Homo sapiens: one gene and its partners. The protein of the gene in region 3 interacts with the protein of the main gene of each other region in a biochemical or structural test. Each region holds a gene or a part of one and is shown on either strand. Other genes may lie near its edges. The genes, in order: NKX3-1, CSNK2A2, TOP1 and TOPORS.

What was found.
Region 1: the proteins of TOP1 (region 3) and NKX3-1 form a complex in vitro, tested with the Homo sapiens proteins (2 studies listed by BioGRID and IntAct).
Region 2: of the proteins of TOP1 (region 3) and CSNK2A2, one has a biochemical effect on the other in vitro, tested with the Homo sapiens proteins (one study listed by BioGRID).
Region 4: of the proteins of TOP1 (region 3) and TOPORS, one has a biochemical effect on the other in vitro, tested with the Homo sapiens proteins (2 studies listed by BioGRID).

The regions. Positions count from the first base shown.
Region 1 is NC_000008.11:23,678,964-23,687,833, forward strand, and holds the start of NKX3-1 (homeobox protein Nkx-3.1), read right to left. Parts: upstream 3,976-8,870; 5' UTR 3,927-3,975; coding exon 3,641-3,926; intron 2,677-3,640; coding exon 2,258-2,676; 3' UTR 1-2,257.
Region 2 is NC_000016.10:58,159,159-58,167,562, forward strand, and holds part of CSNK2A2 (casein kinase II subunit alpha'), read right to left. Parts: intron 8,151-8,404; coding exon 8,049-8,150; intron 7,527-8,048; coding exon 7,426-7,526; intron 6,551-7,425; coding exon 6,402-6,550; intron 4,990-6,401; coding exon 4,913-4,989; 3' UTR 4,896-4,912; exon of another isoform or gene 1-4,895.
Region 3 is NC_000020.11:41,023,209-41,032,218, reverse strand, and holds the start of TOP1 (DNA topoisomerase 1), read right to left. Parts: upstream 3,398-9,010; 5' UTR 3,152-3,397; coding exon 3,119-3,151; intron 2,789-3,118; coding exon 2,764-2,788; intron 1-2,763. UniProt on the Homo sapiens protein: Releases the supercoiling and torsional tension of DNA introduced during the DNA replication and transcription by transiently cleaving and rejoining one strand of the DNA duplex.
Region 4 is NC_000009.12:32,539,530-32,543,476, forward strand, and holds the end of TOPORS (E3 ubiquitin-protein ligase Topors), read right to left. Parts: coding exon 1,858-3,947; 3' UTR 1,015-1,857; downstream 1-1,014. UniProt on the Homo sapiens protein: Functions as an E3 ubiquitin-protein ligase and as an E3 SUMO1-protein ligase. Probable tumor suppressor involved in cell growth, cell proliferation and apoptosis that regulates p53/TP53 stability through ubiquitin-dependent degradation.

The DNA of each region.
Region 1 (8,870 bases), on a different chromosome or scaffold from region 3:
CAGTTCAGAGATGGGTTAATGACTAGTTCCAATGGGGAAAAAGCAAGATGGATTCACAAACCAAGTAATTTTAAACAAAGACACTTTTTTTTTTTTTTTGCAACACAATATACATCACAGTGAAATGTGTAATCCTTGCAAATTGCAAGTTGAAAGAATTAAATTCAGAGGAGGGGAGAGAAAGAGTACTCAGTAGGGACTGAGCACTAAATGCTTATTTTAAAAGAAATGTAAAGAGCAGAAAGCAATTCAGGCTACCCTGCCTTTTGTGCTGGCTAGTACTCCGGTCGGTGTCAGCAGCACGTGGCATTGAACATTGCAATGTGGAGCCCAAACCACAGAAAATGGGGTGAAATTGGCCAACTTTCTATTAACTTATGTTGGCAATTTTGCCACCAACAGTAAGCTGGCCCTTCTAATAAAAGAAAATTGAAAGGTTTCTCACTAAACGGAATTAAGTAGTGGAGTCAAGAGACTCCCAGGCCTCAGCGTACCTCATTAGTAATTGTTTTGTTGTTTCATTTTTTTCTAATGTCTCCCCTCTACCAGCTCACCTGAGATAACAGAATGAAAATGGAAGGACAGCCAGATTTCTCCTTTGCTCTCTGCTCATTCTCTCTGAAGTCTAGGTTACCCATTTTGGGGACCCATTATAGGCAATAAACACAGTTCCCAAAGCATTTGGACAGTTTCTTGTTGTGTTTTAGAATGGTTTTCCTTTTTCTTAGCCTTTTCCTGCAAAAGGCTCACTCAGTCCCTTGCTTGCTCAGTGGACTGGGCTCCCCAGGGCCTAGGCTGCCTTCTTTTCCATGTCCCACCCATGAGCCCTCCACTGGACAGCTCAGTAAGCCTGGCCCTTCATTCTGCGCTGTGTTCTTCCTCTGTGAAAATCCAATACCTCTTACCTCCTCTGCATGCAAAGATTCTCAAGGATTGTCAGACTTCAAACGTAACAGCAGAACCACCAGAAGGTCCTATAAATGCAGTAGTGACCTTCTCAAGCTGTCAGGTCTTTAAATAGGATTTGGGATTTAATGCTATGTATTTTTAAAGGAAAGAAATAAGAGTTGCTAGTTTTAAAAATGCATGTCTTTTAGCCAATTCAGAATCTGCCCCCAAACTTTTTTAAAAAGTCAAGACAGATAAAGCTTTGGGGAGACGGAAAAAAAAAAAAAAAAAAAAAAAAAAAGACCAGATCTCGGGCTAAATAAGCGAGGCATAAGTTAGGTGCAGCCAGACTAAAAATCTGGACTAAAATGAAGCCCTTTAGTGAGTAATTGCTGCAAAAAGGAACACAAAATTTTAAAAGGAGGGAAGGAAGAATTATGTTGCCTTTCAGGATACAGTATATATGATAGCCTGAAAACTCCAGGAAACTTCTGATTCTAAATTCTCCAGCCCAAGGGAAAAAAGTTGAGAAGAGGCCTTTCCACTTTCTACTAATAAAAAAATGCAACAGCCCCTAGCAGCAGTGTGGAGACCCTCCTTAGGCCCCTGTCTTGGACAAGCGGAGATTCTCCTGGCCCGGCCCCCCCTCTTGCAGTGGAGTTCTGTTTATACAGCTTGTCTTAAAATCACAGCGAGTGCATCTTGTTCTATTTGGGCCACCCTGTAAATACTTAAGTTGGCATACCATTTTAAAAGGAATAAAAAGGAATAAGAAAAGCTGATATTTTCATCTCCTCCCACCCATCTCCCCCTCCCATGCAAATATGTGCTGAGCATGAGGGCGTTCTCTTGGAGACTCTCTATTTGCCCCTCTCTTTTACAGGGACAGAGAGAGCCTTGGCCATATTCCAAGGCCAACAGGAGGCTTCTGGACTTAAGTTTAATTCAGTTGGTGACATCCTCATCCTGGTTGTCCTTTCTCCTGTTAGGTTTGCTCTTTCAGAGTTGATATTCAGTGACACAGGAGGATGGAGTTGCAGAACAGAATCCTTGGGTGTACAACTCATCCAAAATCATACAAAGTGCTGGAAAATACCACTTGATTTTCCCTCTCTCCCCTTCAAACAGGTAGCCAGAAGCAAAAAAAATGACCTACAGTATGCACTGGAGGAATGACTTAGGTATTAAAACTTTCACTGTCTCTGTTGTTTCATTGTCTCACCAGTGAAGAATCTGAGATTTCCACGCAAATCTCCAATAGCTTTGGTGTGCACACCTCTTGCTCCCTGACCTTGGCCCCTTGTGCTTTTCATAGAGACACCCTGGGGAAGGCAGTTTTTGATCATAATGGTTGTCACCTGAGCTGGCATTACCAAAAAGCTGGGCTCCAGCTGCCCACGCAGTACAGGTATGGGTAGTAAGGATAGCTGTTATACACGGAGACCAGGGAGGCCCGGGAGAAGGCCTCCTCTTTCAGGGCCGGCAAAGAGGAGTGCTTCTCCAAGTCTCCCAGCTCCGAGGAGAGCTGCTTTCGCTTAGTCTTATAGCGTCTGTTCTGGAACCATATCTTCACTTGGGTCTCCGTGAGCTTGAGGTTCTTGGCCAGGTGGGCCCGTTCAGGGGCCGACAGGTACTTCTGATGGCTGAACTTCCTCTCCAACTCGATCACCTGAGTGTGGGAGAAGGCAGCTCGGGAGCGCTTCTGCGGCTGCTTAGGGGTTTGGGGAAGCCTTGGAAGGGCGCCTGAAGTGTTTTCAGAGTCCAACAGATAAGACCCCAAGTGCCTTTCTGGAAAGGAGAGTGGGGAAGGAGGGATGGGAAGACAAAAGTTACATGTTAGCAGGGAAGAGAACAGAATTCAATCCACCCTTATCTCTTTAGTGAGTGAACAAACAGCCCACTGTCATCGTGGATACATTTCACTTTTTTCACATGACTAAGGAGCTCTCCGGAGTGAAGAGTGAGTAAATATGTTTATTACGCATTCATTTGCTAAGAATCATCAAGAACCCAAAGTTAGAGACGTTTCGTGGTTGAACTTTCTCCCTACTGTCTAGTAGAATTATATGGGGATTCTGGATCTGTGTGCTGAGGAGAGGCGGGAGAGGGAGGCAGGGAAAATGCCGTGGAACAAGATACCCGGGAAGGCCAGACCAAAAGACATCCGGTGTTAGGATCCAGGTGGGCAAGAGAGGGCTTGTGCCACTGGAGACGCAGAGGCAGGCTCATTCTGGGCTTTAATTCCCTCTTCGCTAAACGAGGCGTTCGGTCGCCTCATCAGAAGTGACAGGAAAGAAAATAAGTGGACTCTCTCTCCTGGACACCGGAGGGAACCCCGAATATACCGCTTTACTGCCCACGGGATTGGGAAGCACACGGAGGCTTTGCTGGTCAACCCCTGCTTTGTCACTGTTAATAAGTTATTATTAGTTCTCATAACTACCGGGGGGCTGGCGCCGATCGCGGGTGGCGCGGGGCGGGATCCGCTCCTGGGACGGTGGAGGGCGGTGGCGCTGCAGTCGCGCCGGCTTCTGAGCCCCAGGGAGCGGAGGGCACGGAGCCGGGCGAGTCCTGCGGTGTCAGAATCCTGCGCCGCCCTGACGCTGGGGCTCAGGGTTCATTCCGGGGGCGCGCGCGTGGCTGCGGAGGCGGGAAGGTCCCTCTGCCTGTCGCCGCGGAGCCCCGCGTCCCTGCACCCCGAGCTCTGGGGGTCCGCCTTGGGCTGCCCCCCTTCCCCGGCCTCGCCGCTTACCTGGCTCGGTCTCTGCCAGCGTCTCGGCCTCCTCCGGCGCGGCGCGGGGCCCGGTGCTCAGCTGGTCGTTCTGCGCCCCGGCGCGGCTGCGTCCTCCCTCTGGCTCTGGCTCTGGCTCCGGCTCCGGGTCGCGCTGTCTCTGGCTGCTCGTGCGGCCGCCTTGCCGCTGCGCGCCGTCCCGCAGGATGTCCTGGATGAGGAAGGACGTGAGCGGCTTGGACGGGGTCGGCGGCGCGGCCCCCTCCGCTTTCGCCTCCCCGGGCCGCGGCTCCGGAACCCTGAGCATCCCGGCGGCCCCGCCTTGGCCTGAATGCACCCGCCCGGCCCGCACCGCTTTCACTTTCCGCCTCCCGGCTCGCTTATAGCCCAGGGGAGCGGGCCGCGCCGCCCTCCCATTGGCCGCGGGACGGGCCGCGCCGCGGATTGGCCGCCCTGAGCCCCAGGTGACCCCGCCGATCTGCGAGCCCTGAGCACTGCCCCGCTCCGCTCCTCCCTAGGGGATTCCTTCCCCAGTTCCCTCTCCTTCCCCAATTCCCTCTCCTTCCCCAATTTCCTCTCCTTCTCCAGCTCTCCTCCCTCCGCCCTGAGCCGTTTTCCCAGGCCAGGAGCGCACCCCAAAGCGGGGCTCCTCTGCCCCAACCCACCCGCAACAGAGAGAAGCTCCTGGGGATGGGACGATCAAGACAAACAGTCCAGTTAGCTCTTCAGGACCGTCAGAGCCAATTACAGGGGATGAGCACGCAGTCACTGCAGCCGCGCGGTACCGTGAGAGTTCTGGGTGCTCTCTCTCTCTGGGAGAGATGGTGCAAACTCAGATCTGCAATATCTACGACCTCAAAGAGGCATGACAAGTAGGTGCAGCCAGACCCCAGGCTGAAAGAAGGAAAACACCTTTGCCAAAGCCTTTTCCCGTTGCAGAAGTGGTTTTCTTTGGTGGTTCCTTTATCCGCAATAACCTGTTAACTTTCCTTCCTCCCCAGACACATGACATACCATCCTTTTGAAAAGTTTCCAGACGGATGGAAGGCGTTTTAGGCCAGGACAAATGCAAAAACTGCATTTAAAAAAGTAGTTCAAAAGAACATCAGCATACTCTTTTTGCAGATTACCAACTGTTAACATGTAACCCATTGGCTAAACAATGGGTTAGCCAGATTGGTCCAACCGGTACTGTGACTGGACTGGACGGTACCGTGACAACAGACGAAAGTGGAACAGAGATGATGGAAGTATTTTCTTTCCTTGTCTTTTCTCTTCTTTTTTTTACGGACAGGGTCTCCCTCTGCCGCCCAGGCTGGAGTGCAGTGATGCCATCATAACTCACTGCAGCCTCGATTTCCTGGATTCAAGTGATCCTCCTGCCTTGGCCTCTCAAAGTGCCAGGACTACAGGCATGAGTCTCAGTGTCAGGTCGATGATGGAAGTATTGAATTAATGTTAAATTTACTGAAATTGCACATTGTACTGTCAGTGTACAAGAGAATATTTTTAGGAAATAAACACTGAAGTAAGTAGGAGCAAAGGCACAAGATTTATGAAACTTACATCAAATGGTTCTGAAACAAGGATGCAGATTGATAGATCCCACGCCATAAAGCCGATGGGTTAAATGGTAACAGTTGGTAATCTGGAAAAAGGGTAGGCTGATGTTTTTTAGAACCATTTTTTTAATGCAACTTTTTTGTCTGTCCTGGTCTAAGACGGCTTCTATTCAACTGGCAACTTTTCAAAAGGATGGTATGTCATGTGTCTCTGGAGGAAGGAAAGTTAATAGGTTATTGCTGATAAAGCGACCGCCAAAGAAAACTACCTGTGCAACGGGAAAGACTTTGGCAAAGCTGGTTTTCTTCTCTCATCTTTTCAAAGTCTCTTTATATTAGAACATTCTTTAATGTTTTCTTTTGAATCATTGTAGATTCACAGGAAGTTGCAAAAATAATACCTCCAGTGTCCTCCAAAGACATCTATACAACTGTAGGACAATGTAGAAAACAGGAAATTTACGTTGGGACATTACAGTTAACTAGACTACAGACGTCATTTATTTATTTATTTAGAGATAGGGTCTTGCTCTGTTGCCCAGGCTGGAGTGCAGTGGAGAGATCATGGCTCACTGCAACTTCAACCTCCTGGGCTCAGGAGATTCTCCCACCTCAGCCTCCTGAATAGCTGGGACTACAGGTGTGTGCCACCCTGCCCAGTTAATTTTTGTAGTTTTTGTAAAGATAAGGTTTCACCCTGTTGCCCAGGCTGGTCTCAAAGCCCTGGGCTCAAACAATCCTTCCGCCTCCACCACCCAAAGTGCTGAGACTACAGGTGTGAGCCACTGTGCTGGGCCTTATTGTGGTTTAAATTTTTAATTTGCATTTCACAAATGCCTAGAGATGTTGAATACCTTGTCATGTGCTTGTTTGCCATCCATATTTCCTCTTTGGTGAAATATCTGTTCAAGCCTTTTGCTCATATTATAATTGAATTTTTCTTTCTTTTATTTTTTAACCATTGAGTTATGATAGTTCTTTATATATTGCTGTTTGTAAGTCTTTGTTTGGTAGGTTATTTGCAAATATTATCTCCCAGTCTGTAGCTTGTGTTTCCATCCCTCTAACAGGATCTTCAACAGAACAAAAGATTTTAATTTCATTGAAGATCAATTTATGAATTTTTGAATTTTACAGAATGTGATTTTGATGTCCTGCCTAAGAACTCTTTGTTTAGTCCTAATACTGAAGATTTGCTCCTATGTTATCTTCTAAAAGTTTTATGCTTTACTCTTCAATCCATGATTCCTTCAGAATTAATTTTTGTATATAGTGTGAGGTTTAGATTGAGATGGCCTCCTTTTATTTCTAAAATTGAGAGTTGGGTATGAATTATTTAATAACAAGTGCTGCCATTTGGAAAAGATAAAGTCCTATTCTTATGACAAAATAAATTCCAGACAGCTCAAAGATGTAAAACACAAACGAGCACGTGAAAAAAATATTTTAACTACACTTCATCAGTGAAGGAATGCAAATCAAAATCACATTGAGACGAGCCTTTTCCACCTTTCAGATTGACAAAGGTTAAAAAAAATGGATAATGTCCAGTGTAAGTGAGAGTGTGGAGGAACAGCTGCTCTCATACAGCCATGCACTGCATCGTGACGTTTGATCAGTGACAGACAGCATATATGACGGTGGTTCCATAAGGTTATGATACTGTATTTTTACTGTACCTTTTTATGTTTAGATATGTTTACATGCACAAATTCTTACCATTGTATTACCTTTGCTTACAGTATTCAGTACAGTAACATGCTGTACATGTCTGTAGCCTAGGAGCAATAGGGCATACCATGTAGCCTAGGTGTGTAGTAGACTACATCCATCTAAGTTTGTGTAAGTAGCTCTATGATGTTTGCACAGCAATGAAATTGCCTAACATTGCATCTCTCAGAACATATTCTTGTCCCTAAGGATGCATGACTGTTTTTGGATGACAACTTGGGAATATTTGTCAAAATTAAAACTGAGCATATCCTTTGACACAGCTATTCTGTGTTTGGCAATGTGCCCTAGAAGTGCACAAATACACAATGTATTGACTTGGGAACATATCTTCAATTTGGTCAGAGACTGGTTCAAGCTGCAAAGCATGTTATAGATGAAACCCATTGTATAAAACAGCACTATAAGTTACCTATATAATGTTTTTCATTTGAACACTTTAACATACAGAATATATCAGGAACAAGATTTATACATATGTATTCTTTTTTTCCATAGAGTAGTTACCTCTGCTCAGTGAGATGGAGACAGTAGGTTGGGAGAGGGACAGGAGGATAGTGGAACAGGGTGTATTTCCTTGTACTCATTGATAATTTTAAAAAATGAAAAATATCAAGTTGGAGCTGAGCCTGGACTGCCCTCCTCCACCGCGTCCTCCTCAGGCCTGTGAGTGGGGCCACAGCTCGTGGTCCTCGGCCTCACCTCACTGCATCTTTTCTCCCCTTGTGCTTTGTATTTGGGGGTGTGGATGGCTCATCTTCTTTATGAGACTATGAGCTCCCTGAGAAGGGACTGTATCCTCCTCATATTTGTACCATCTCTAAAGTCTGGCTTAGTTCTCGGCATACAGAAGGCGCTCCATAAGTGCTTGCTGGCTCAATGTCCAGCTCCAGTTGTTATGACACATCTCACTGGCTAGCGGAATTATCCATAAGGGGCCAAAGGACCCCCAGGCAAATCACAGTGGAAGGCTCGTCCTCCTCCCCTTGCTGTGTTTATGCAGTTTAAACCGGGTGAAAATGTGCAAGGCAATCTGGAGACACTCAGGGGCTGCAGCCCAGAACAATGCCCCCTTCCAGCGATGACCAACCCCTAGTCCCCAGATTCTGTGAATATGCTATGTAAATAGACAGCGAAAGTTAATGCTGCAGATGGAATTAGGTTTGCTGGTCCGCTGATCCTGAGATGGGAAGGTTATTCTGGATTATCCAAATGGGCCTGTTGTGTCACAGGGGTCTTTATCAGTACAAGTATGAGGCCAGAGAATCAGAGTCAGACAAGATATGACAACTGAAGCAAGGCTAGAAAGAGTCAACTGTGGGAAAGACTCAACTGGCCCTTGCTGGCTTTGAGGGTGCAAGGAGGCCAGGAGCCAACTGATGCAGGCAGCAGGGAAAGAAAAGAAGTGGATTCTCTCCTAGAGCCACCAGAAGGAACACAACCCTGATGACACCTTGATATTAGCCCAATAAGCCAGTGTGGGCTTCTGATCTCCAGAACCATAGCATAATAAATGTGCATTGTTTTAAGCCACTAACTTTATGGTAATTTGCCACAGCAGCACTAAGAAACTAATATAGGGGCACTAGTAAAAGAGCAGCAGTGATGAAGGAGGCCCTACCAGCTTGAACTTGACTGCAGATGTGAACTTTGGATCCTTTTTTCCTTTTAAGTTATAAATATCTCTTTAGACCCATGATCCCATCCCTTCATTAAAACTGTTTGTGTGTGTGTGTGTGTGTGTGTGTGTGTGTGTGTGTGTGTCTGTGTGTGTGTCTGTATTTTCTTCCGGTCTTTGGCCATCTTCAATGGTAAGATAAATATAATTTTGTATCCTTTTTTCCTCCCAAATTCATATTACACATAAACATTTTAACATTGCTCTATTACATGTTTTAGAAACCATCTAAGAGCTAGGAGGGACCTCAGGATTATCTAAGAAAATGTCTTGCTTTTCT
Region 2 (8,404 bases), on a different chromosome or scaffold from region 3:
GCTGATTCCAAGCACCCAACTTCAGAGGCTCAGTGAGAAGAAAGCACACTAATTAAAGAAAGCACATTAATTAAAGATACCACCACCTGCCAAATAATAGCATGTGCTGCAAGGAATGGGGCTAGGGAGAGTGTTTCACAAATGCAGAGCACCAGGCCACAAGGTTAAAGTCATGCACTAAAACAGTCAATCCCAAGAGGCAGGTGTCTGAGTGGCGCGACTCAGAAGCAAGTACATAAAAACGGAACACTCCCAACAGGACACCACTCTAGCCCCACTTCTGCCAAAGGAAAGTTTTCACATCAAGGTGTAACACACATCTTTGCAATTCAAGGTTTATCCCTCCCCTCTCCCCCAAAGAGACAGGAAATACAAGTTAAGGTCCTCATAGCAATGGTTTGTCTCCCACTTGGGAAGGCTGGTTATTGTCAACATTTTTATTTAAGAAAACAGGATTTAACATGGCATTTTTCTTCCCTCTAAGGGCAGCAGCACATAAATCATACATCAGTCATCCAGTGATACAAAGAGGTGGCCAATTGTGTCTGAAGTAGTCACTTGTAAAGGATCACAACCCAGGCAGTGTTGCTTTTCTGCAAACAGAAGGAAACAGAAGGCTCCATGGTCCTTGAAGATTATCCAAGTTTTCCACTAGTTGTCAAGATTTCTGTCCCAACCTCTTAGTCACCATTTACAGCAAGAAGAGCCAGCAAGTGAAAAACTGTTAATTTATTGATTCAAAGTTGTTTTTTTTCTTTTTAAAAAACAATCCCCAATACATGCAGTTCAGGGTTAAGTATCACATTTGTAGCACATTGTTGAGTCTCAAAACAAAAATATGCATCACCTGTATAATCCCATCACATCTTTTTCCAGCCTCTACAATACCTAGTTGGGGGTGTTTTCATTTATACATCCACATAGCTCAGAAGCATGTTATTAACGGTTGATCTGGCCCGATGCTTCTCCGCCACCTCCCCTGCCCTGGTCTCCACCTCGGGGTTATTTTTTTCTAAAGGCAGGATGTTACTCAGTCTTAATTTATTAAGATCACTGACAAACTTTGGCTTCTTGTGTGCTCATGTGGTCCCTGCTTTTGCTTTCGGAAGGGTTTATATTGAAACGACTGTGACTCTGATCGGTTATTATCCCCTCATTTTTTGTAGGAAATAAGTTTGCTTGTTTCTGTGGGTGCTCACACAGTAACACAGGTTCCTAAAGTAACCATTTAATCTGAACTGGTATTAAAGGAAACTGTTAACCAGGCTCTCTTAGATCTATTTCAGTTCATATAAAAAAACTCTTCCAATTGTTGCTTGTGTCTCAAAGTAGTTCTGCTTCCATCCTTATCAACAGAGCACCTGGGAGAACCTAAGTCATTTCCCTGAGTAGGCACAGACCACGAGCCCCGCGGCACCCAGCTCTCTCTGGGACTAAGCGCCTGACTCGAGAGCACCACCTTTCAGTCCACTGGGACCAATCCAGTGGGCAGCGCCCTCCCCAGGGTACATTCCAGAACATAAACTTGGTACCCTCTAATTTATCCCCTCAAGAAGTTAATTTCCTCCTCAAGAGCTACCTTTAGATGGATTTTCTTATTGGTCCCTTTTCTTTTAACAGCCCTTCCCCTAGCCACTCTCTTCAAGTCCCCAAGGATTACGAGTTTGTCTGTCTCCTCTAATCTATCAGTCTGAGAGCACCTTCCTCTCTGCAAGGGAACACATTTGCTTTAAACCTTGTGAGTGCTGACATGTTACAGAATGTCTGGGAGGAGGCCTGGCTGAGTGACTGGTGTTTAAGTGCCTCAATGAACGACATCAGCGCTTCTCTAGTTGGTGAGAAGGCCCAGGAAAGCTTGGTCTGCGTCATACACTCAATAGCTTCTCCTACCCAGCCACCTACCCTGCCTACAGGGATAGGATGAAAGCAAGGCCAGCTGACAGCATCCAGGGGAGAGTGAACTGCCACCACACCAGAGGTGCAAATGTGACTCAGCACTTCATGAGTTCTACTCTCACCATGGGATTTCTCAGCAGAAGCAAACCTTGCAGTCAGGCTCACTTGTAGCCAACAAATGATATAGCCATCTGGATTTGGCATAGGAACCTTTTGTTCTCACCATACCAGGTCTATGTTCTTGAACATAGGCAGTACCTGAGATGATAGTATAACACTACCCTGTTCCCCACATTTTTTGCTTTTCTTTAGGAAATAATTAAGTCCTTATCATAGGCACTTTTAACCTGTTTAAGATAATGAAGCAAACAAATGAAAAGTACTGAGATGAGTTTAAGAAAGAATATGCTAACTGAAAAGGATACTGGGTGCGTACATTTACCATGGTTTAGTCTAAATATTAGACACACAGACACACACACAGACACACACACAGACACACACACAGACACACACACAGACACACACACACCCCTTTTGGAACTCTCCAAGACCATCTCCGAATCTAGGTAAATAGTCTTAAAATTTCGGGGGAGCTAGGTTTGGAAACAAAAATGGTTTTTGGAGACAGGAAAAGAGATGGTCTGAAACTGGACTCACTTCAGTTTGGAAAGGAATAGCCTAGGTGCCAAGACCAGACCCAGGAAGGGGTGAGCATTTCAAGCCCAGTTATGGTCTAAGTCTAAGGCATGAAGAGAGGTAAAAGTCTAGGTGCTGGAAAAGCAAGCTGTGTGCTTCAAAGGAAGAATGCCTGTGTCAAAGCTGCAGTTACAAAACCCCAGGACAAGGCAGGCAGGCGGTGTCTGCACCTACATCACCGTCAGAGAGACAGGCAGAGGTCAATCACCTGACTATTCTCCTCCAGGTACTTTTATTACCTTTGGGGGACCCAAGGGAAAGGAATGGAGTTACCGCTTCACCAAGACCCTCCAGTAGGCACCTCTTGCCTGGTCCAGACAGGCAACTTAAAAAAAAAAAGGGAGGGCTGAGGAGTGGGGTGGGGTGATAAAGGAGATTGGAGGGGGAGCAGGAAAGACACGCAGTGGCACATCTCCCTGATGATAACCAATGCTTCAGGATTGCCTATAAGGGCATATTAGAAGGCTTTTGATAATCTCAAACACTGAGTTTTGCTGCCTGACATATCAATACAGGTTTAGCCAAAGAGCTCACATCTTGCTTTTGATTTTCAGGTAGAACAAATGTTTACATTAGTATACAGAATGTGCAATGCAAGCAGGCAGCATTGGTATGAGAACCTTAACTGAATGCATTCCTTGGCTTTGGGATCTTATTTATTTTTTACTCTATAAACTCAACTCTATAATAAGAGAAGAGTTTCATTTGTATTTTAAGTTCCCACAGACCAAACGACAAAAATAGAATCTACATTTAGAGTAGGATCTGCTACCAATACCAATAAGATTTTATTGGAATATGGAATGTAAACAAATGTTTCAAACAAACATCTAACCTTATAAAAATGTATGGCATTATTAAATAGTTAATAAAGAAATCTTAAAGGGTGATGTGGTAGACACCTCTAGTTCTAGCCTAGGTGTGTGAAGTCCCCACAGCTGTGGCATGGCCCTGCAGCTGGGGTGAGGGGACTGCCTACAAACCATGTTGCTCCTGAGTCCCCAAAATGAAATCAGCCCTATTTTTGTTTAAACAAACTCTAGCTTTCTCTGCTAACATGAAGGTTTGCAAAATGGATCCAACACTTGCTCCGGGAGCACCATTTTCTTCCCCAAGCCCCTTGTATATTCCTCTGAGTTGCTTGAGTTTCAGATGACCCTGCCCACACAACTCTAGTACCTGCATGCAAGACAGACTTATCTTTGCCATCACATAAATGTATCACATATCAGAACTTACAAATGCATATTACCCTGATTACAGTGGGAAACTGTGTCTCATGGGGATAAAAGGAGGTGGGAGAGAGATATTTTTTTCCATAAGTCTTTCCTGAAAAAATTCTAATGGGATGTTTTCCTCCCTCGCCTTGCCTGAAGACTGACTTTCCAGCTTTAGTTATGGTTGTGAACAAAAAGGTCTCTGTTTCAGAGAGGTGCATTAAAATAGGCGCACACATAGGGATGTGCTGGGAAATGGTGAAGTTCTCCTTACAAGGCTGCCAAAAAAAAAAAAAAAAAAAAAAAAGAAAAAGCAACAAAAAAATAGCAACAAGATTTTATGGTTAGGGAAATCAACAAAGGTTATAGTGAGCTCCAAGTTATGCACTTAGCATGGAACTTTTGATGATAACCATGGACCAGTTCATGGCATTGCAAGGTTTCGTGATCCCTCCTGACATCAAAGAGGACTCTTGTGAAAGTGACTGCAGTTTGCTCCCAAATGAATCCACTTGGAGGAAAACTGCGGGGATGAGGTACATTTCCTGGAGAGCTCATGTCATTAAAAAATACATAAAACGTGGATTTGTAAAGAGCTTAAAAAAAAAATACTGTCACTGTTTTAATATCTCCTTTTTGTAAATGAGGCTGGTGTGTCAGTATAGACTGCTGACATTTCGCTAAGACTTGAGCCTGAATTTCACCAAAGGAAACCCAGACCACAATGGAATAGATAGGAAGTCAGACATTCAGAGCTTGTTGACTGAATGGGTTAATTCAACAGTGGTGCCCTGTTAAACAAAGGTAAATGTACAACAACTCCGAGTCTCTATCTCCCATGCATTCCAAAGGCAGAGCTCCTTCAGATCCTGAACTAGGTGCATCCCCATGCTGCCACAGTGACAGCTCCCTGGAGACTAGCACTGGGGAGTTTCTTTCTTGCTTTTTGACAGACTTTTAGGTCTTTACTCTTCTGTGCATTTAGAAGGAATGATAAGAATTTCTTTTTATCACACTGTAGTTTTCCTTCAAGGTTTGTGTTTGGTTGGTTGGTTTTATTGGCAAGCATCAATGCCGCATTACCCGTCGCTTTCCAGTCTTCATCGTGCTGCCGTGAGACCACTGGAAAGCACAGCATTGTCTGCACAAGGCTGGGACTGCTCCTTCACCACAGGGTCTGCAAGAAAGCAGGAGGAAAGTCAGGCAATCAGGGTGGTGAGTGCTGAGAGAAGCCCATGGCAAACCCACCCTTTCAACGGAAAGAGAGACAGACTGATGGGCAAGCCAGGGTCAGGGGGGCAACAGGAGAGACGGAAATCACGGAATTCCAGCCATATAAAAACCAAACACTGAAAAATGATCAGGGAAATTGTTATTGCAGTCAACTCTTACCCTTCCTCGGAGTACAGACTCAATGCTAAGAGGCATAGAAACTCTAATTTCCCACTGTTCAAATTTCTACATTTATTTTCTTTCAATATTAATATCATCTCTAACCCCTAATTTCTTCAAAGCATGTAGAATAACAAGCACTTCAAAGGAAAGGTGAGTAAAAAGAGCCATCAGAAGACCTATCCATTTTAAGCAACCGTAGTTTGAAATTTTTTAAATTGAAGTATGACATATATTCAGAAAAGCAGAAAGATCATTAATGACATGTCATAAACATCAGTATTCCTAATTTGATCTAACTCGGGTAAAAACAGCTTTCTGTGCCAGACACTGGGGCGGGGACATCTGAGTTTCCTGGGGCTGAGGTCTAGAAGGCTGAAGGCTTTTCCATTTGCGGTCTCCCTTATGCATATGGGCCACAGGCTCAAGACTACAGCGACACATTCTTCAGGCAAGAATTTAGTTCATCTCCAGAGGAAATCAAAGGAGAGGGAAAGACAGCATGTTTGTTAAGCCAGAGACAACGACTTTAAGGGGTGAACGTTTCCCTCTTGATTCAGAAAGCGACTGAGGTAAGTCTCTCAACCTCCCTGCTCCCCAGGAAGGAGACTGATAATAGGAGGAAGTTTATTTGAAACACACGTTATCAGAGGAAAGAACCATACACATGCAGAAGAATAAGCAAACACGCAAAGTGAATCCACACACACTTCTAAGTGAGCAGTTCAGTCAAGATTTCAGTGAGGCCTCTCCACACTTACTTCCCTTTCCTCAAATTCCTTTCGTCCATCCATCTGTTCATCTCCTTCTTTCAAAACATACAATAGTTATCTTACTACTTTTAACTAATTACTAGTTTTCTGAGGGGAGAAATAATCTTCAATTAGGTTTCCACACAAATATATGTATGTTTAAAAAGAAATTTTAGAAACTTGCGATCTATTAACTCAGGGTAACAGGGAGTAGTCAAACAGCTTGAACTCCGGGGAGATACATTCAGTGAATAAGCAAACACCTTTGGTGATCAAGAAACGGATCTGCAAAGTTGTCTCAATCATCTACGATAAATGAGGCCAAATTCTAGGAATAATCCAATCCAAATACCCTAGAATTCTCCTGACTGGTCTCAAAGACAAAGAGTGGAAGATTTGTTCTCTTGACTGAATTACTCCCTGAACACAGTCCCTGGAGACTCACAGAAGTATGGGTGCTCCATGGCCTCTTTGGCAGTCAGTCTCTGTTGATGGTCGTATCGCAGAAGTTTGTCCAGAAGATCTAGGGCCTCAGGGCTGACAAGGTGTCTGTTCTCACTATGGATAAAGTTTTCCCAGCGTTTCCGTGAATGTCTGAGAAGAAAAATGAAGCATTAGTAACCAGAGACTAAATTCAACAAGAATCCTTATCTACTAGGGCTAAAGCCAACAAAATCTCAGAATAATGTACTGATTACAAGCTTGTTAAATCTCTAACTGGTGCCTGCCCTACGGCCCCATAGTTACAGCATAGCATCCTGAAACACAATGGTGCTCTGTGATTAGAAAAATACAACTAGGTAAAACTTCTATATCTCATTTAGAATATGTGGAACCTTTCTAGATTATTTTTTATGCTGTAGACTTTTAGTCAATTCTGGGTGGCATGCAGAAGAGTGGGCAATTTTTATTGGTCAGCAGATATATTTCCCAGGGCTAGCCTCAGAAACAGGGAGGTTCCATAAAATACTGTTTGAAAACTGTTAACAAAATGTTTACTTCTCAACATTATTGCAATGTACCTGAAAACTCAATGTGCTTTAAAATTTGCTATTGTATAGAAAATCCATTACAGAGAACAAGAAGAAATTGTAAGTCCACCTTGAAGAGATATGAAGTAAATAAAATAAAATATAATAAAAAACAAACTAAGTCTCTTATTCAAAGAATCATTGCTCTCCAAGTTTGGCCATTAAAAATAAGCTTTTGCTGTACCAGAAAACTTTTTTCTATAACATTATGATTTTTGTTTTACCTTTTCTATTAATAGGTTATCTCTCAGAGAAGTAAAATGATTAAAAGACATAAAGTCCAAATATCTCAATAAGTTAAAAGAAAATATGCATAGGAAAAAAGAGGGCTACTTCCATTTTACTATAATCAGAATGGGAAAAGAAAGTGATTTTGGCTAACCTTTCCACTTCTGAAACGGGGTAAGGTAAAGCACTCTCTCTCTCTCTCTTACTTACTGTCCCAGGATATCGTTGAAGTGTGGATCTAGGTCTATGTGATACTTCTTCAGATACCCATACAGTTCTTCTGTACCCAGAACCTTGGCAATGCGAACAAGCTGAAACACAAAACAAACTGACCAAATCACTGAGCACAGAACACACCATGAGCCCGTGAGGACACTGCACCAAGGAATCAGAAGACTTCCACACCACTAAACCTCTAGGAACGAGATACAAACCCAGGTCCAGGGCAGGCAGACAGACCCAAGGACAAGAAGTTCACATGAATGCAAATTTCCAAACGGCCTTTAAAATAATACAACTTACGATAATAATCTTCTAGAGGTGGACCAGTACAGGGCATCACAATCTAATGACTAAAATCTAGTTTTATTAGACAAGGAGGTGCCTGACTTCTTCACAGATTCACTTTGGAAGTTTGGCATAGATGGCATTATCTGCCTCTACTTCTGCGGACCTGGTAAACACAAAATTCTGTGCGATCTTTATCTTGAAGAAAAGCTCATATGCAGACACTGAGTGATACTTAGTGGCTCAAGGATAGTATTCTTATCTAAGGATGCTATTTTTTTGGCATTCACCCCCAAATAAATAAGAACCAGAAAGCATTTGCTCACCTGGTCATAGTTGTCCTGTCCATGGAAGAATGGTTCCCTTCGAAAGATCATGCTTGCTAACATACAGCCCAAACTCCACATGTCCAAGCTATAATCATACATCTGAGGCAATAAGGACAACGCATTAGCCAAGGGTATTAGAAATCCATTTTTCTGATATAAATTTCTTTTTTAGACGAGATTGGGCGTGTTCAGGGTGGTATGGCCATAGATAATTTATTTAAAAAAAATTTTTTTTAACTTCCTGGCTCCTAGAAATGATCTGAATTTCTAGTCTTCATTTAACCTTTGCAGATATTTTAGATTTAAAAACTTCTCTGTCCCCCCAAAAAACTAGCTGAGAAAAAACTAAAATC
Region 3 (9,010 bases):
ATGAGGGCAGGCAAAATGAGAGACGTTTGATTTTAATATATGAACTTGTACAGTTAATCTGTAAGATGGGTTAGGCCCTCTTAAAATCACGCTTAAACAATCTCTTAATACAAAGTTCAATAATGACATGTCTGGGCATAATTAAACATTGATTTCTACTTTTTTTAAAGTTTTTTTCATAGTTACATAAATCAATCACTGGTTAACAATGTATTACTTGAGATAGCAAGCATAGTTACCAACACCACATCTTCCAGACAATATTCACAAAGAATAATTACACCAATGTCAGAACTTTATGGTGGCAGATTCTCTTCAAAAAGCATGTTTAGATAAAAAGCAAATGACAAATTATCAAATCCTTCCTTCTCTCCTTTTTCAGCTCTGTAAGAAAATAGAGATTTGTGGCTTTTTATTTTTTCATGCTAGTATCATATAGTATCACTCTAGCATAGTGGCTCAGCTCATGGGATTTAGAGTGGCCAACTCACAGCCCTTGGGCAAGCTAGTAAATACACTGAAGCCTCAGTTTCCTCATCTACAAAACAGAAATAACAGGACCTAACTCACAAGGGTCCTTCCAAGGATTACATTTAATTAGATGATCCATGGAAAGAGCTGAGATTCATGCCTGGCAGTAAGTATTCAATAAATATTAGCTATTATTGCTATTAAATGTGAGCCAACACATTCTAAAAGTCAACATACGCAGATTACTTCAGCCTCTATAAAAATGTCAGTAAAGATCAATAACCTAGCCAGCTCACAATCATTCACGTGACTTAGGTGAGAACCATGTAAGTTAACTTTCTCACAAGAAAGGGCTAAACTTTGTTTCATTACTTACATTACCTACTCAGCCCAGCCTGACAGCCAAAAGAACACATTCCATATTAAAGATCCCACCTTCCTCTAGCAAGGTCAAAAGGACTTCTTACATCCTCACCTGCACATCCTTTCTTTGCTCCTGTATCCCAAAGAAACATGTCTATACTGTGGCTTTCTAAACTGCAGGCCTCACCTCCTCCCTCTTTTAAAATCGTGATAGGTTGGTTAAACGTACTTAAGAAACACTCCAACCCCTGACAATTCTCTGCGCCCAGTCTTCCACAACCCCCAGCTCAGAAGTCACCTCCTCTGAGAAATTTCCCCACCCTCAGACAAAATTAACTCCCCTATACTTCAAAGCATTTTGGGTACACATATGCCCCAGTAGTTACCTTATAATTAACTAATTATGTCTCCCCCAATAGACTGAATTGAGAGCAAGGGAGTGTTATGGTTACAGGATCAGCTCTAGCACCAAGCACAGTGGTTGGCACATATCTGGTGCTCAAGAAATGCCATACTTTAAACCAGATTCTCTCCTGGCTGAGTACCATCTCCTGCTGGATGCCCCACTTCAAACTCTGAACATAAGGTTGCTCTCAGTAGAGCAGGCTAACATGATGGACTGCTGATTACAACATTAGAAAACCTACTCATCAACTTCTCCCATTGGAGAGGTTCCCGGAACCCAAACTCAATTGAGCAGGATTATGTACCATCAAAATCAGTGGGAATTCCCAGCACACTACAGAAGGTAACTTCTCCTTCAACAGGGTTGTTCGAAAGCCTGCAAGGATGAGCTTTTTATTGGAGGACTCTTCCCTGGGTAACTGAAGTGGAAATACAGTAAGAATAAATGCCTTGATTTGGCTGAAAAGGGTTCAAAAACATAAAGAATTGGGAAAAAAAAAAAAAGCCAGTTCTTGATTCCTGAAAAACAGTGGCTCGTGAAAAAGAATGAACAGGAAGCAGGGGTGGGTACTGGACACTCTTTGCTTCAATAAATAAAATCTTTTTTTCCTCCTTACAACCCAAACGAAAAGGCCAACACACCAGGTCCACAAGAGATGCTCAACAATCTTTCCTTCCAACAAGTACACTAAACTGCGTTTCCAGAAAAACACTGCATTGGGAACCTCGACCACAATGAAAAGTTCCAGTGACTAACATAATTTTTTAAAAATCCAACATTTACATTGGGTGACCCACAGAGAACTTGCAAACTTTCTTTAGGGAGGTACTGCTACCTTTGCAAAGAACGTAACTTGGGAAAAACAACCTGGAAATATAAAGAACTCCACAAAGCGTGGCTTTAGTTTTAGAGCCATAATTCCTATCATAAACAGCCTATCAAAAAAAAAATTAACAGTTGCTTAAGGAAATCTTTCATTCTGGAAGCAGAAAAGGAAACAAACATGAAGCATAAAGGGAATAACCCCCAAAATAAAGTTTAAAAAATAATAATTCAGTCCCCCAGCCTTCCCTCTCTGGTGAAGTATGTGATTTATACGGCTTTGCTCTGCAGAAAGCTCATTCTGGGCAGCTCAAGGAAAGAGCCGAGGGAGGGAGAGAAAGAGACACAGGCACAGAAAGGAGAGGAGAGAGAAAAAGAAAATGGCGCAGAGACTAAGTCCCGACCGTCGACAAGGCGACTTTCCCGGGAGGAATCCCGGCCCGGAAAGACCGCCCGAGGCCCGGTGGCGGACGACACGGGGTCTCCGTTGTCCCCTCTTGGGAGGGCCGGGATCTGGAGGAGCTGGGGTCCCCGGAAAGGGGGTCAAGAGGCGGCCCGATGGGAACAATGGGGCCGGTGAGCGAGGAGCCGGGACTTAGTCTCTGGGACGCCATGTCTGTCCTCTGCCCGGCACCGGCAGGGCGCGGGGGAGGCGGCCGGCGGCTGGGGGGCCCCGGAGTCGGCGCAGGGGGCACACTCACCATTCAATCGGAAATCCGCTTCGATCTGGAAAAAGAAAAGGAGAGAATATCAAACAACAGCCACTTTAACCCCTCCGGCGGCGAGCGCGCGCGGCCGGGGTCTGGCTCACCCTGCGCCCCCGGGGAGGACGGGGACCCGGGGGTGGCCACAGAGGGCAGCCATCCCTGCCTCGAACTGTAACTTCGCGGCCCTCGCTCGCGGCCTAGCGAGCCGATCTACTCCGGCAGGCGGCCCCTCACCGGGGGCTCCGGCCTGTCAAAGCTGCCGGGCCGGGGCTGGGGTCGGGGCCTGCGCCGGGGGTCGCGGGACGGCCAGGCCGGGGTCCGGGGCCGCCAGGGTCAGGCCGGGCCGTACCTGGGAATCGTTGTGGAGGTGGTCCCCACTCATGTCGGCCCGGAGGGACGAGCGCGGCGGCAGGCGAGGCGGCGTGGGGGAGACGCAGACGGCGAACCGGCCTGTGCGGGCGGACGGGGACTCCGGAGGCTCGAGGAGGCGCAGGTAAGCGGCGGTGACTGTGGGCCCGAGACTCCAGAAACGGCTGAGGCTGCTACCACGGCGGCGACGCTGCCTGACTGCCGGGCGGGCGGCGAGAACAGACCCCAGCAGTTGTGTAACAGCCTAAGTTCGCATTTGGGCTCACTGCGCCTGCGCGGCCGCTTTTAAACAACACGTCGGCGACGTCAGCGCTCGCGGAAAGAGGCAGAGGGTTGCGGCCCGCCCCCTCGCTGTTCGCCAGACGGACCTGTCTTTGCATCGCAAGCCCCGCCTCCGGACCGTGCGCGCTCCGCTGTGATTTGCATAAGGAGCCGACTCCTCCCACGGCGTCCCACCCCAAGCAGCCTCCCCTTCCTCTCCAGACGCTTTTTCTCGGAACCCCAGCCCCTCTGCTAGGCAGTGCGCAGGCGCCACCCGGGCACCGCCTCCGGACCAGGGCTGGCCGCGCAGCCACGTGGTGGGCCTTTAAAGGCCGCGGCGGGACCCAGCAATCTTGGGCAGAGCTGGTATCCGGCGTCCGCATCTCCTTGGAGCGGCGAGTACCTTGGCAGCTGGGACCCCAGAGGTCTCCCCAGCGCCTCCTTTCTTGCTAAGCCGACCCTGAGGCCGCCTGGTGGGAGGAGTCCCCTCCCCAGCCTTTGTCCAGGCCCTCCAACTTCTGGATTATTTCACGCCCACTTTTTAAAAATTATTTTAATTTTTCAACCAACCAAGGGTCCGGTTTAACCCCAGTTTTCCGCCGAGTACATGTAGCCCTGGGTCACCAAGGGTCTGATTTCTTTGGTTCATTCTACAAATACTTATTGAGCATCCGCTATGAGCCCAGGAATTGTGCTGAGGGAAGGGGGAATGCAAGAGACCAAAGGGAACTGAACCTGTCTCTATCCGCCCCTGTATCCCTGGCATGCTGGGAGGACGGGGCAAATGGGGAATAGAACTACCGTTTATAGAGCATCTATTCTGTGCCCAGCTCTGAATTCTCACAATAGCTCTGTGAGGTCGCCTGTATTACAAAAGTCAAACTGTCCTAAAGACAAGGGACCAACAGCCAGCTACCTTGCATCTATAGTTGGATACCTCTCAAGCTTCTCTGGGAATGAACTGAACTCCACTCAGCTAGAAAAAGCCCCATCCTGACACCTTCCTTTCCCTCATTTCCCACTAGTCCCGCTGATTGCATCTCTTTGCTTCATCTACTTCTCTCTGCTGCCCATAAGCCTTTGAAGTCTGCGTTCTCCTGCTTGGATTAATACAATGTGCTGGCTGGGGGTGGTGTCTCACACTTGTAATCTTAGCACTTTGGGAGGCCGAGGCTGGCAGATCACTTGAACCCAGGAGTTCAAGACCAGCCTGGGCAACATGGCAGAACCCTGACTCTACAAAAAAATACAAAAACTGGCGGGGTGTGGTGGCATGTGCCTGTAGTCCCGGCTACTCGGGAGGCTGAGGTGGGAGGATCACCTGAGCCCGAGGAGGAGGTCGAGGCTGCACTGCACTCCAGCCTGGGCAACAGAGTGAGACCTGGTTTAAAAAAAACAAAAAACAAACCAACAAAAAACACCGCACTCCAAAACACTACACTTCTAACAGGGATTGCTGCTTCCATTCTTGGCCCTCTCGTAAACTGCATTCCAACAATTGCCAAAGTGATCTTCTCAATATGCTAATCTAACCATTACTCCTTTGTGGATATTGCCACATCTATTACCACTTTCACTATTATTATTTCATATTTTAATTGATCTCCTTTTTATTTACCTTCATCCTAAGTGTTATCTGTGAAATAATATCTATGAAATCATTTGGAAGTAAATATGAAAACTGTTCATCCAGTGGACCATCAGTATCTTTATCACATCTAATGTTTACCATCACATGTTTACCATTAGATGTGTTTACCACATCTTGTGAATGCTTCAAGATCAACCTAAATATCACTTTTTCAAAGTGACTCTCCGGCGCACTACTGACCCTGCTTCCACTGGCTGACCAAGGGTGCCTTATAGGCCAGGCGCGGTGGCTAACGCCTGTAATCACAGCACTTTGGGAGGTCAATGTGGATCAATCACTTGAGGTCAGGAGTTCAACAACAGCCTGGCCAACATGGTGAAACCCTGTCTCTACTAAAAATACAAAAATTAGCAGAGTGTGGTGGTTCACACCTGTAATCCCAGCTACTCGGGAGGCTGAGGCAGGAGAATCGCTTGAACCTGGGAGGCAGAGGTTGCAGTGAGCCGAGACCGCACCACTGTACCCCAGCCTGGGCAACAGAGCGAGTGAGTCTCAAAAAATAAATAAACAAATAAAAATAAAAGGTGCCTTATAGTATCTATCTCCTTTGTAACACTTATGACACTTGTTATTAAGTTACAAATGTAGTAATTGGTTTCCTGTCTATTTCCCCTATAGCAAGCAAGGTCTGTGAGAGGGGGGAATCTTGTCCATCTTGCCTACCACTGAATTCCCAGCACCCAGCAACAGGCCCTCCTACAGAAGAGGTGCTCAAGAAATGGGCAAATCAAAGCAGGTTACCCTGCTTTGGTTAGGAGCACACATTTGGAAGTCAAATCAACTTAGGTTTGAATTCTGCTCTGCTGTTTGTTACCTGTGTGATATCAGGCAAGTTGTTTAACTTCTCTGAGTCCCTGTTTCCTCATCCACTCCATGGTGATCATTGTGGGTATGTAATGACTATCAAAAAATAATGGTTTGAGGGCAGGCACCTAGTAAGTGCTGAGTCTTGGATTCATACTCAGGTCGGCCTGACTCCAAAGCTATACTCTTTCTCTGAAGCAAGCTGCCAGAGCCAGTTTTGCCTTGCTGTTGGTGTCTCTTCTCATACTCTTCCCATCTCAGGATCAATCCCTGGCCAGAAGATGAGGCATCTGCTTGCTGCAGTGAGTCCAAGATAATTTGAGGACGGCCTTCAGGAATAACAATGCATCCACACTACTCCACTCTCCCAACCCCCCGTTTCCCAGGGAGAATCTGCATTTGCTTTTTTTTCTTTTTTTTTTTTTTTTTGAGATGGAGTCTCTGTCACCCAGGCTGGAGTGCAGTGGTGCCATCTGGGCTTACTGCAACCTCCGCCTCCTGGGTTCAAGCAATTATCCTGCCTCAGCCTCCCGGGTAGCTGGGATTACAGCCACGTACCACCACACCCAGCTAATTTTTGCAATTTTAGTAGAGACAAGGTTTCACTATGTTGGTCAGGCTGGTCTCAAACTCCTGACCTCGTGATCTGCCCACCTTTGCCTCCCAAAGTGCTGGGATTACAGGCATGAGCCACTGTACCCAGCCTGCATTTGCTTTCCAGGCCCCTCCAAAGAAGACTAGGTAGGCATGAAAACAGCACAGACTTCACAATGGCAGACCGAGGACATCCCCGTGCACAGACATGGAAATATCCGGGCAGTCTTGTCACAGGCTGAACTTCTCTGCCAGCATGTGTGGCTGGCAGTGCTCAGAGGTTGACTGACTTACTCTGTCTTACAGAGACCACTCCTGACTCCTAACACTTCAAACACATGTCCCCACCATATGGTACTTGAGGAGATTATTGATAGTGCATGGACAAGCATTTTAATTCTAATAGATATGTATTTCGATGTGTATGAGAAAAAATAACCATTGTTTTAAGGATATAACTGGGATGAGGCTTTTTAAAAAAGTGATTGATTTACATAAAAACATATAGGAATAGTGCACAGAGCGGACATATAAGACAAACTCCAGGAAGGCTATAGGCAAATAAATGAGGTTTGGGAAACACTGCTTTAAATCAAGACTGTTCACTCATGGACCATCCCAACCCTTATAAAAATAACTAGCAGGTGAAAACTGGTAGTGTAGGTCTGTCTCCAAAGTATGCATTGGGAACAGTGGACGGTTTATAGATAATCCACTAAAAGAAGAGCTCCACATACAAATACATACATTATTATATTTACAGTTAAACAGGTTTTTTCCCAGGTGCCTTCTCAGGGTCTTCCATATGTAAATACTTACGTGACTCTTGAAAAGAGGGACATGGTGTGCAGCATCTCCAAAATGTAGGCAAACCCGGCCAGGAGCGGTGGCTCATGCCTGTAGTGCCAGCACTTTGGGAGGCCGAGGGCGGGGGTGGATCACCTGAGGTCAGGAGTTCGAGACCAGCCTGGTCAACATGGTGAAAACTCGTCTCTACTAAAATTACAAAAATTAGGCCGGGCGCAGTGGCTCACGCCTGTAATCTTAGCACTTCGGGAGGCCAAGGCAGGCAGATCACCTGAGGTCAGGACTTTGAGACCTGCCTGGCCAACATGGTGAAACCCTGTCTCTACTAAAAATAGAAAAATTAGCTGAGCATGGTTGGCACACACCTGTAATCCCAGCTACTTGGGAGACTGAGGCAGGAGAACTGCTTGAATCCTGGAGGCAGAGGTTACAGTGAGCCAAGATGGCGCCACTGCACTCCAGCCTGGGTGACAGAGCGAGACTCCATCTTGGAAAAAAAAATGTAGGTAAATCCAAAAACACTTTTTTCCAGACTACCTCTTGAGACTTGGGCTTTTTGGGGGTGGTAGAGAGGGTGCACCATTCCTGGAGGTACTGCAATCCAGGCCAATGTGTAGAGTGGACAGAGCAAGCTCCTATTCCATCTCCTTGCTCCAAAAATCTATTTATTATATTATCCTCAGATAGAGGATGTATCAGATATTAAACTGGTAAGAACAGATACTGCACATGATCTTAGCCAGAAGGCCAAGAAGCAATGAGACTTGAGCTTTTTGAAATGACTGAACCTCAAGACTCTTGATCTAGGTTGTCACCCAAGATCTAGTTCTTATTCATCTGATTCCGACTCTCTTAGGCTAGTTATCAACCTGGCCCAACTCTTGTCTCCCAGAACTGAACACCTCTAGCGTTGTCTAAACAACTCTTGCTTTTCAGGGACCCATCCATCTGCACACTTTCCCCGGACTGCAAGATTATGGAGGAACAAGATACACAAATACACAGATGTGCTGCTACAGTTGTTTGGACCAGGATGGGCACTTGATCCAAGCTGAGCCACTCAGGTTAACTTCCTTAAGGTTCTAGAATTCAGAAGAAAAGAGTGGTTCCATCTGTCTTCTTGTGGATAGATCTGTAGTATGTAGATTAGGGAGCTGCTCCTGGCGATACTTGCTGTTGGAAGGGCCAGAGAAACCTGGAAGTGGGGGAGGATATAGGAGAAAGTGGGTGGAGGAAGAGAAGAGATAAGAGATAGAAGTCCCTCCCGCCAGATGGCTCACACCTGTAAGCCTAACACTTTGGGAGCCTGAGGCGGCTGGATCATTTGAGCCTAGGAGTTTGAAGTCAGCCTATGCAACATGGCAAAATGCTGTCTCTACAAACAAAAATTAGCTGGGCATAGTGGTGTGTGCCTGCAGTCTCAGCTACTAGGGAGGCTGAGGTGAGGAACACCTGAGAGGCTGAGGCAGCAATGAGCCAAGATCGTGCCACTGCACTCCAGCCTGGGTGACAGAGTGTCACCTTGTCTTAAAAAAGAGAGAGAGAGGACCCTGATGAATGAAGTTCAGGACCCTCGTTCCTACTTTCTCCTGAAGCCTGGTTGCATGGTTCCTGTTCTGGCACCTTTAAATTGATTCCCCCTTTTGCTTAATTGCACTCTGATGGGTTGGTCCTAATCTCTACTTGATTCCTGGGCACTCACAAGGCTTTTGTCATCCTTTTGGCACCCCCTCTGGGGCTATCATGCTGTGGAAC
Region 4 (3,947 bases), on a different chromosome or scaffold from region 3:
CTACAAAGTAATTTCAAACTTAATGTGTATTTCTTGATCAACTATAGTCTTCCCACAATTTCTCAATGTCTGAGCTTACTTAAAAATTGCCAACATCAATTTTAGATTCTTCTTAGACAATTTTCTACTGTCCTTAGAATAACGGATTCTAAACATGGCCTACCAAGACTGTTCCCACCCTGTCCTTTGTCTAATCCTGCTTTTAGTTCTTGGAATATGCTAGGCTCTTCATCTGCCTTTGGATCCTTTGCCAACAGCAATTCCTCCCCCGTTAATGCTGGCTTGCTTTCTGGATTCAACTATTACGTCCAATCATGATTAGATCCCCATTCACTTGTAAGGGAATTATACTTTCTCCTCAGAGAATGTATGATAGTTTATAATGTTATACTTACATAAATATTTGTCTTAACAGTCCATAAGCACCATCAAGGCAGGGAGCATAACTGCTTTGCTCTATTGATAAAACAGAACCGCCAGGTGCAGTGGCTCATGCCTGTAATCCCAGCACTTTGGGAGGCTGAGGCGGGCGGATCACGGTCAGGGGTTTGAGACCAGTCTGGCCAACATAGTGAAACCCCGCCTCTACTAAAAACACAAAAATTAACCGGACATGGTGGCGCGTGCCTGTAGTCCCAGCTACTCCGGAGGCTGAGGCAGGAGAATCGCTTGAACCCGGGAGGCAGAGGTTGTGGTGAAGTGAGATTGCACCACTGAACTCCAGCCTAGGCAACAGAGCCAGACTCCAACTCAAAAAAAAAAACAACAACAACAACAAAAAAAAAAACCCCAAAACTTAGTGCAGAACCTGCCACATAGTAGGCACTGCAATTTCTACTGAATAAAGAATGAATACAGTAGCAAGGCAAAGGCAAACTGAAGGCTGAATTAAGATTTAACTCAAGCTCCACTGTTCAGTGGCAATCCTACATCAGCATAGATGTAATTTTATCATCCCTAAAACAAGATAAAACATAACCACTTTATATGAAAGAACTACCAATGTAAAAGAAGTATGACAAGGGTTTTTCATGTTTATTTAGCAAGTTAAATGCTGTTTTTACTGATGATAGAAAGCAAATAAGATACTCCTCAAAATCAAAGAAAATAATTAAAACTATAAAGTATTTGTTCACCTGAAGTTCAGTATTTATGACATAATTATGCCCTTAGCTACTTTCAAGATTTTAACTTTACTAAAATAAACTTTAAAAAAAAATACTGCATAGGAAAATGTCTGATTCTTGTTTTAAAGTGTTACTGTTTTATTTTTTTTCTTTTGTTGAATACACATTTGTTTTACTGGCAGTCCAGATAAACAAGTATATAAAGGAAATAGTAAATTTTTATTTTGGCAGAAGATAAACTGTGCAGATTAAAATGCCTCAATTTAACCTGAAGAAATGGTTTTGAATCATATAAATTTTTAAGAAGAAAAATAAAGACTGTCCAAAGGGATTCTCCTAGCTTATAACACATTTCCAGAATAACTCTCAAAAAAAAAAAATTCAAAAATACTCATTGACTACCTTAAAAATATGTCAATACCGTATGGCTTTATGAAATAACTTCTAAAATTTATATAATTTTTCTTATTTAAAAAGGACCCCAAGTTTTAAATAAGCTGCTAGCAGTATCATTTTCTTCACTTAAAAGTGCATATCTTTGAGGGTGGGACATACATTTTGAACAAATAATGATTTTTACAAATTAACACCAAAAAAAAAATCATTTAAAATATTGTAAGGAGGAAGAGAGTTTTCACCAAATGTCATCTTTAAATAGACTGCAGTAGACGACATTCTTCCTTTTTCCTTTTTATAACATCATAATTCTCAATGAAATGCTTTGGCAGTTTTAAGACATATCACAGTCTCTACCAAGACATACTGACATTAATGATGTCCGTGGCGATGGCAATTGCCTTGATGGCTCAGTTTGAAGAGACACAATGTTACTGGGCTGGTTCTCCAAATCAGAAACAAAGGTGCTCTCTTCTCTTACATCGAGAGTTTGTTCAACTGAAGCTGCCAGAGGTGGAATATTATCTACAGTTTTGTTGGCATTATTCAAGTTGTTACTAAGTGTGGCAATATCACATTCCTTGTCCAGCACACCAAATTCAGCTTCTATTGTAACTACATCTTTAGTTTCAAATGGTTCCAAGGAAGGAGCCAAAAACTCATTTTGTAGAGGGTCTTGAGGACCACTATTGTCACATTCTGTATCCTCCTTTACTTCAGAATCCTTATCACTGTCACTGTCAATGGTAATTACAACTGGGGAACGTGAAGCATTATCTCCATGGTGTTTCTTATGCTTCTTCTTATGTTTCTTCTTTTTCTTTTTATGGTGTTTAGTTGTATCAGTAGCTTTTCCTTCATAAACTATCTCTACACTTAGGCTCCGGGTCTTCCTTTTTCTCCTTTTGTGTTTTGTCTCTCTGTCTGATGATCGGCTGTCTGAAAAGGTATCACTCTCATTTTTGTAGTTTCCATCCAATTTTGATGAAGATTTTTGGTAATGACTGTCCTTTGCTTTAGAAGCAAATTCACGAGATGGCTGAGCCACTTCGTTAGTACCCTCCAAATGCCGTGTTTTGTATTTTCGTTTCCCTCCAGGCTTTTCATTTCTCACCCGGTCAGTCCCGGTAGATGCAGTCCTTGATCTGTTACTAGACAGGCTCCTTGATCTGTGCCTTTCATAGTAGTAATACTTCCTCTCACTGTGATTATTTTTTTTCCTAGCATTTGTTCTTTCAGAAAAGGACTGAACTCTAAATTCTGGACTTGAAGACTGTCTAGAATAATGAGCTCTGGACAGAGTCCTCCTCCTGTAAGATGATTCGTACCCATCCCTGTCCTTGTTTCTACTGTAATAAGTATACTCCCATTTGTATCTGCTTCCATAATTATTTCTTAAATAATAACGATCTCTATTTCTGCTCCGTGATCTTCTTTTACCATGATCACTGCTACGAGACCTTGATCTGCTTGTGCTTTCACTACTTAGAGACAGAGTTTGGCTTCTTCTGGACCAACTGCTATCTCTAGTTCTTGATCTCTTTTTGTCTCTTCTCCCTCTAGGTCTGCTACTTTCCCTGCTTCTGGATCGTTTACTTTTCATTCTTTTCTTCCCATGATGCTTTCTATGATTCTTCTGATCATGCCCACTTCTACTCTGAGAACGTGAATCTGAACTTCTTGATCTTCCCCTCTTTCTGTGTCTATGGTTATATGGAGAATATACTCTGTCTCCTCTTACAGATGAGTTCAGGTTTCTGGGAGATGACAATGATGTAGATCGTTTCTCTTCCTTCTTTGATTTGATTCTTGTACTAGAATCACAATGACCTTTATTTATTTGTTCATCCTTTCCAAGGACAGAGTGTGGAGATGAGCATCTACTAACATCGCTATCACCAGAACTGTAAGATTGCTCCTGTTCTTGTGTCTTCACTGTCTCCATTTTCTCATAAGAACCTAAGTCCTCAGAATCAGAGGACAGTTCAACAAGTTCTGGGGTCCTCTCAGCTAGTGGTTTAACAAACCCAACAATGACACAATTATCTGAAGAATCATCACTGTCATTATTTAGGTCGTCATTGGTTTGTACTCCTTGTATCTGAGACGTGGCTCCTCCTGTGACAAGTTCTTCATCTGAACTGTCAGAAGTATTTAAAAGAGAAGACATAGTAACGTGTACCTGCTCTGAGCTTGAGTAAGATGGTCCTGGAGTTTCATCATCCCATGGTGCCTGACTAACAGTGGCTACATTAATATCCAGCTCTTGGGTCTCAGCCTCATCTGGAGATATTGTTATGACTGAAGAATCAGAATGGCTGCCTTCTTCGTATGAAGGAGCAGGGCAATCATAATTGGCATGCTGGTCAAAGGCTGCCATGTTAAAAGGAGATCGGGCAAAACTGATAAATTCATGTATAAAAT